Linked DNA regions of Homo sapiens: region 2 is linked to region 1. Evidence: fine-mapped QTL for protein levels in blood plasma. Region 1 holds a variant in brackets. A gene starts in the other region. All regions are shown on their reverse strands.

Region 1 (2,912 bases):
GACCTGGGCACATGTGCAGCTGCTGTGCACAGGCAGGAAGATGGCGGCCTCCACTGACCAAGCTCTCAGACGACTCATCAGCTGTGACACACGCCTTTTCATTTGGACCCATTAGGGTAACCTGGTGGAAATAAAGCATCTGTCACACCCCAGGAAAGTGTCACACAGGTATTCCCAAATTCTCTTTCTCCACAGCCCTCAGAGGTCTGACGGCCATTCATACCCATCAACCGGGAGAAAAATCATGTCATTTCCATAATGCACACCCTCTCTGCAGAGGCGCTATAAATATGTAGAGATGACATCGCCGCAGCGTGGCTTGTGTGAGTGATGTCATCTCGGGGGGTTGCCTAGCAACCCCGACAACGTTTGGGAGGCTCTAATTCTTGAGTGGGATAAAGTCACATTTACGCAGTTCAGTTAATCAGCTTCCTGGCAACTCCGCCAAGATGATCTCATTTTATTCATGATTATTTTATGTGAAATGCACTTTTAGCTCTAAGAGAACACAAAGATTTAATTCAAAACTCGCTATTGCTTTGTGTTTCCAGGGTGTCGTTAACACGGCGTCCATGCAAATAACCATGGTAACACACGGATAATTAGTATATATGGCACGCGGTATTAATACAGAGCCGGGGCCGGCTCCCAATCAGCGCCGATTACCGCGTGTTATTACTGGAGTAATTACCTGCAGTAACACACAAATTGAACTAAATGGTCAATTGAAGTAAAGTGAATGGCTTTTTATTCTAGTTCCTAAATAATGTGTCTGCTTGGCTGAGTAGTTCAAGGTAAATAAAAGTCTTAAATTGATGGCCTCTTCCCCACCGCCCCTCCCTGGGTGGAGAATTGGGCTTCGTGGGTCTTGCAGTCTGGTAACCAGACAGTTACTCCTGGAAGCATCTGCCTCTCCTCCAGCCTCCCCACCTCGAAAACGAGCACCCCCATCAAGCATCCCTGCAGAGCTCTGGCCCTTATTAAAAATTCCCAAGCCCTGTGTGCCGTCTTACTCATCCCCCCAGGGAAGAGGGCACGGAACTTTCCAGATAGAAGATGAAGAGCAAAAGGCAGCGGCCTTCCTCCCAGGGATGTTTTCTTGCCCCTCTGGTAGGTGGGGCAGAAAGGAATCACTGGCTTCCTGTTACAGGATGGAAGCGGGGAGGGGAGGTCAAAGGTCACTTCTGCCTTATTAGCAGAGCGTTTCTAAAATTCCATAAACTTAGAAGATCTTCAAACAGGAAGTCACACTGGACCTCTCAAAGAGACAGGGCACATACCGAATTTGAGCTGCTTCGCTCCCTTCAGAGAGGGAGAGGGAGAAGGGAAGGCATGCAGACGATCCTTGGACTGGGCGCGGAGAAGATCAGATGCCCAGCGATGGGGACAGGGGATAGAGTCAGTCTTATTCTGGTCCTTTCTCTGTGACAGGAGCAGTGTTGGGACGGAAGCAGGCCTGGGGAGGTGGGAAAGAAACGTCAAGTCCTTCATTCAGCCCATCTGGGATGATGGGCCAGGGTGCCCACATGGGCATCGAACTCCTAGAAGGCAAAGACAGAGTGCAGAGGAGTATAAAGAGGGTCCGGCTGCTCGGGGTTTCTCTGAGGGAGCCGTATTTAAGCTGAAACTGGAAGGGTGAGGGAGGTCGCAGGGAAGGAGGT[T/C]GCAGGGAAGGAGGCTGCAGGGAAGGAGGGCTGAGGAGGACACTAGCAGTCAGGGAAGGGCCAGCAAAAAGCCCTGTGACTAAGAGAGGCCACTCCACTGCACCACCATCTTGAAATGTCACATGTGTGGAAATGCGTAAGTACAGAAATCTAGGAGAAGGAAAGAAAAACGTGGCTTAAAAACCCACAGCCATGTCTGCATTCCAGGGTGGCAGGGGCAGAATTCATTACAGGGCAAGCAAGATGCTTTGTTACTCAGAAAACCCTCTTAAGCGCCTTTGCTTGTCAAGGTAAGGCCACCTCTCTACTCTGGATTGGAGAGTCTGAGACCAACAAAGAGAACAAATTGCATTTCAAAACAAAGGGATTTTTGATCAAAACACTTGCAGGTGCACAGCTGCTCACACCCACTGCCCCACCACAAGGCAGCCATCAGTGCAATATAAACAAGGGGGCCCAGAACATATGCCTGGGCTGAAAACAAGACAAGCCTCTCACAAATCAGAAACAGAAGGAGCAGGGTGAGCACCACAGCCCACAGGGCTCCAGGTTGGGAGTGGCAGGATCTGGACTCAGCACTCCCAAAGGGCAACAGGGACTGGAGTCCAGTGCGGGCCAGGACACAGGCTTGGGAAAGAGGGCAAGAAAACAGCCCAGCAGCCTTGGTGCTGAAGTTATAGTTTAGGGACACTGCAGTCTATGGAGGAGGCAGGTGGTGGGGTTAGCAGGGAAGGGCTGATGCCACAACCTCAAAATGAGAAGCCTCACCAAGATGCCTTCTGCCTCCAGGACCGTATCTGCTTTGTGCTCCATGTCACAGCACTGCAGAAACACCACCTTAATACCTGATTCTAGACTAATCAGGGAGAGAAAGGGAGCAAACGATATAAAACCAGATGAAGAAAAACCTCAACTCCTCCCAATCGAAATGAGCAAACTAACATTTTAAAACACAAGAAGAAATGGTAGAGGAAGAAACTGATTTTGTATGGCAATCTGACAAACACTTCAAAATAACATTGTGTTCCATAATGACATAAAGTCTCACATCTATTGAAAAATGAATAATATATCAATATATCCAAAAATTGTATGAAATTGGACAAAATGGGCAAATTCTTAAGAACAAATACATAACTCATTGACACAAGCTCAAGAAGGAATAGAAAACTAATAGAAATAGAAAAACTAAGTAGTCCTATAACCATTCCATGAATTTAATCAGTAATTTTAAAAGAAAAAAACTTCCTA
Region 2 (2,912 bases), not on the chromosome of region 1:
CAAATATTACCCATTACTGAAAACATCAGAGTGTGCCACCTGCTAAGTAAGTGCTTCTGGGGAGATAGAGTATTTCAAATTGGATTGTCATGAAAAATTTGGAAAATTTGAAAGCTAAAACTCTTGCTTTCATTTCCTACTGCCTCAATTCTCTGTATTCTGAATTTACTCCCTGTGTCCCCCTAAAATTGCATTTGCAAAAGCCGATCTTCAAGTTACATCCAATGCCCGCTCTGCCTCATCTTCTATGGGAAACAAGAATTTTAGAGGTCAGGTAGCCTAACACCATCAATTCTCAAAAGAGGAAGCTGAGGCCAAGAGAAGTCCTGTGAATTTCTTACAGCTCATTTGTGACAGACCAAGAATTACCCACTTTACTGGGTTGTTATTTACTAAGTGACAGTGAGTCTATATCTCTTTTGACAAGTGAGGTGGGGGCATGGAATTCGGCATGTGGTTGGTGTAAGAACTCCCCTCTCTCCTCTTTAACCTTACTTAATAAGACCCTGGCACAGTTGATATTTTAAGAGGGCTACTCTGTTTTCCCAGAGGGACCTAGGCACGGTAACCCTCTTAGCATGCAGACCTTGTTTCCTGAGGGGTAATGTTTCCCTTCCCTGTGACTTGTTTCTTGGGGGCTGTGTTCTGATTTTCCTGCTGAGCCACTTGTTGCCTTGGGCTGGCTGCCGCGCTTGGCAGTTTTTAGTGAGGGCTCTGATAGATGCCAGGAGGTGAGGGGAAGGGCTCTGGGTGGACTCCGTCATTGGACAAGCAGACTTAGTGATGGATGAGCCTTCCCCTGAGGAAGTTTTGGATCAGAAGTCCAACTGATAAGTTTTTCCAGAATTGAGTAACCCAGAAGCAGTGCCGAAAGGATCTTACCTCTCTTGTGGCTTTTTGTATTGATTTTAAAAGAAATTCTCAGAGGCAGTTCCACATTGTACTGGAAGCACAGCTATATCCACAATAGGCTTAGATATATGTAACATGAATTGCTTTAGAAATAACATTTGAGGAGAGGGGTGAGAGGAAGGAAGAGAGGGTCTTAAAAAATAGCCCTATCAAAATATTTTCTTTCTTCTAAGTATTGAAAAGACACAATATAACCCTTTCTTCTTTCAAATGATCTCATAGCTATTTGTTGAGGGGAAATACCAAATGTTTATTATTTTTTTTGAAGAAGCTTCTTCGGTCCTGATGATTCATGTTGATATCATTTTCCTCCTGACTACAGAGGCTCTGAGACAAAGCTACACCTCAAGTGATATGCCAGGGTCAGAACAATTCCCGTCCTGAAGGAGGGTGTGCAACCTTCTTTATCCCTCCTTCACAGACGTCCTTGAGCCCTTGAGACGGATGTGAGTGAGTTTTTCAGTCCTCATGCAAAACAACCATCTAAACATAACAGATGACATCAGCTTGGGCTTTTCAATTCCTGGATGGCAGCAGCGTGTTAATCCAGCCTTCATCCTGGATTTCATAAACCAAAACAAGAGAGCCTGGCAGGAGGACAGCGCTGCTGCTGGGTTGAGGAAATTGATGACGGGAAAGCATGCGGGCAACCCAGTGTATAAAACTCATAAACGTGTAGGCAGAGGCTCAGCTACCAGTTTGGACGGCTGCTTCCCACCAGCAAAGACCACGACTGGAGAGCCGAGCCGGAGGCAGCTGGGAAACATGAAGAGCGTCTTGCTGCTGACCACGCTCCTCGTGCCTGCACACCTGGTGGCCGCCTGGAGCAATAATTATGCGGTGGACTGCCCTCAACACTGTGACAGCAGTGAGTGCAAAAGCAGCCCGCGCTGCAAGAGGACAGTGCTCGACGACTGTGGCTGCTGCCGAGTGTGCGCTGCAGGGCGGGGAGAAACTTGCTACCGCACAGTCTCAGGCATGGATGGCATGAAGTGTGGCCCGGGGCTGAGGTGTCAGCCTTCTAATGGGGAGGATCCTTTTGGTGAAGAGTTTGGTATCTGCAAAGGTAAAGAGTGACCCCTTACCTCTCCCCTCCCGGGGCATGCTGAGAGCTTTTAGCCAGCTTGGGAGGTGAGGTGGCTTTGCTCCTCAAGAGTAAGAGGGAAAAGGCAGGTGGATTCTTGACAAGGCACCACACAGGTATTGTCATGGGTAGAGACTGAAGGATAGCTCCAAGTAGCAACTGAAACCAGTGTGCAGGAAGGCACAGAAAGAAGTGTGGCATTTTACTCGTTGCCTTAGGAGATCGCAAAAAGAAAGCTGCAATGGAAGATTGTGTTGGCTCCTTTTCTGGAAAACTTTAGAAACTTGACAGGTAATCTGTTAAGGATGGCTTAGGTGCTCTCTCCTCTGCGAGGCAGCGATTACAAAGGTCTGCACTAGATAACCTCTTGGAATGGTTTCTAGCCCCCAGATTTAGTGATTCTTTGATCTTGAAAGGGTCCACAGGATGGAGGGCCACTCTCAAGATCAAATATTTCTGATAAACACAAATGCACTTTATGGAATAGAGTGAGCTTAAGTCATCTAACAAAATAACTCACTCTTCAAAGAGGGTCCCCTGAAGCATAAAACAAACCTCATCTGACTTTATAAAGGTTTTGGTCATCTGGAAAAATAGCAGATGGTGTTAAGACAAGGAAAAATAACAATAGAGAAAAATAAAAACTGGAAGTCTGTAAAGAATGAGGTTGACCACTTGTACACTTAAAGAAAAACTTCGTCGGTTGAAATTTTAGCTAAATAATGTAGTTAAGCATTTGTAGAATTTATTTTAAACATAGTAACTAGTTTAAAATATTTAACATTTTAAAAATGTTTAGAATAAAAAGAATGATGATTTAAAAATACTCTACGTATAGATATCTCATGATCTTATTATGAAGAGCTATTATTAAGAAGCAACACATGCTATAACCCCATCCATCAGTTGTGTAATA

Which allele goes with the higher level. Alleles are on the strand shown, and positions count from the first base shown. The strength of an association depends on the size of the effect and on how common the allele is.
For the plasma level of the protein whose gene starts at base 1,602 in region 2, T is the high allele of the variant in region 1 and C is the other (moderate association).

Evidence for each region. PIP is the posterior inclusion probability: the model's chance that the variant is causal. The UK Biobank Pharma Proteomics Project read protein levels with antibody pairs (Olink). The fine-mapping took linkage between variants from a reference panel, not from the people measured, so its PIPs are less certain.
Region 2: ESM1 starts here. The variant in region 1 is fine-mapped to the plasma level of the ESM1 protein (UK Biobank, PIP above 0.99).

What each region holds. Positions count from the first base shown.
Region 1 is chr9:134,203,560-134,206,471 of GRCh38, reverse strand. It overlaps LOC124902298 (a long non-coding RNA gene), which reads right to left. Exons shown (of 3, transcript XR_007061835.1): 2 at 1,281-1,456; 3 at 1-121. Among named protein-coding and RNA genes, the nearest start is that of RNU6ATAC, 40 kb to the right of the region's middle. RefSeq lists enhancers at 1,748-2,247, 2,248-2,749. The variant T/C (reference allele first, on the strand shown) is at 1,662.
Region 2 is chr5:54,984,283-54,987,194 of GRCh38, reverse strand. ESM1 (endothelial cell specific molecule 1) reads left to right here and starts at 1,602. Exons shown (of 3, transcript NM_007036.5): 1 at 1,602-1,978. The coding sequence starts at 1,678.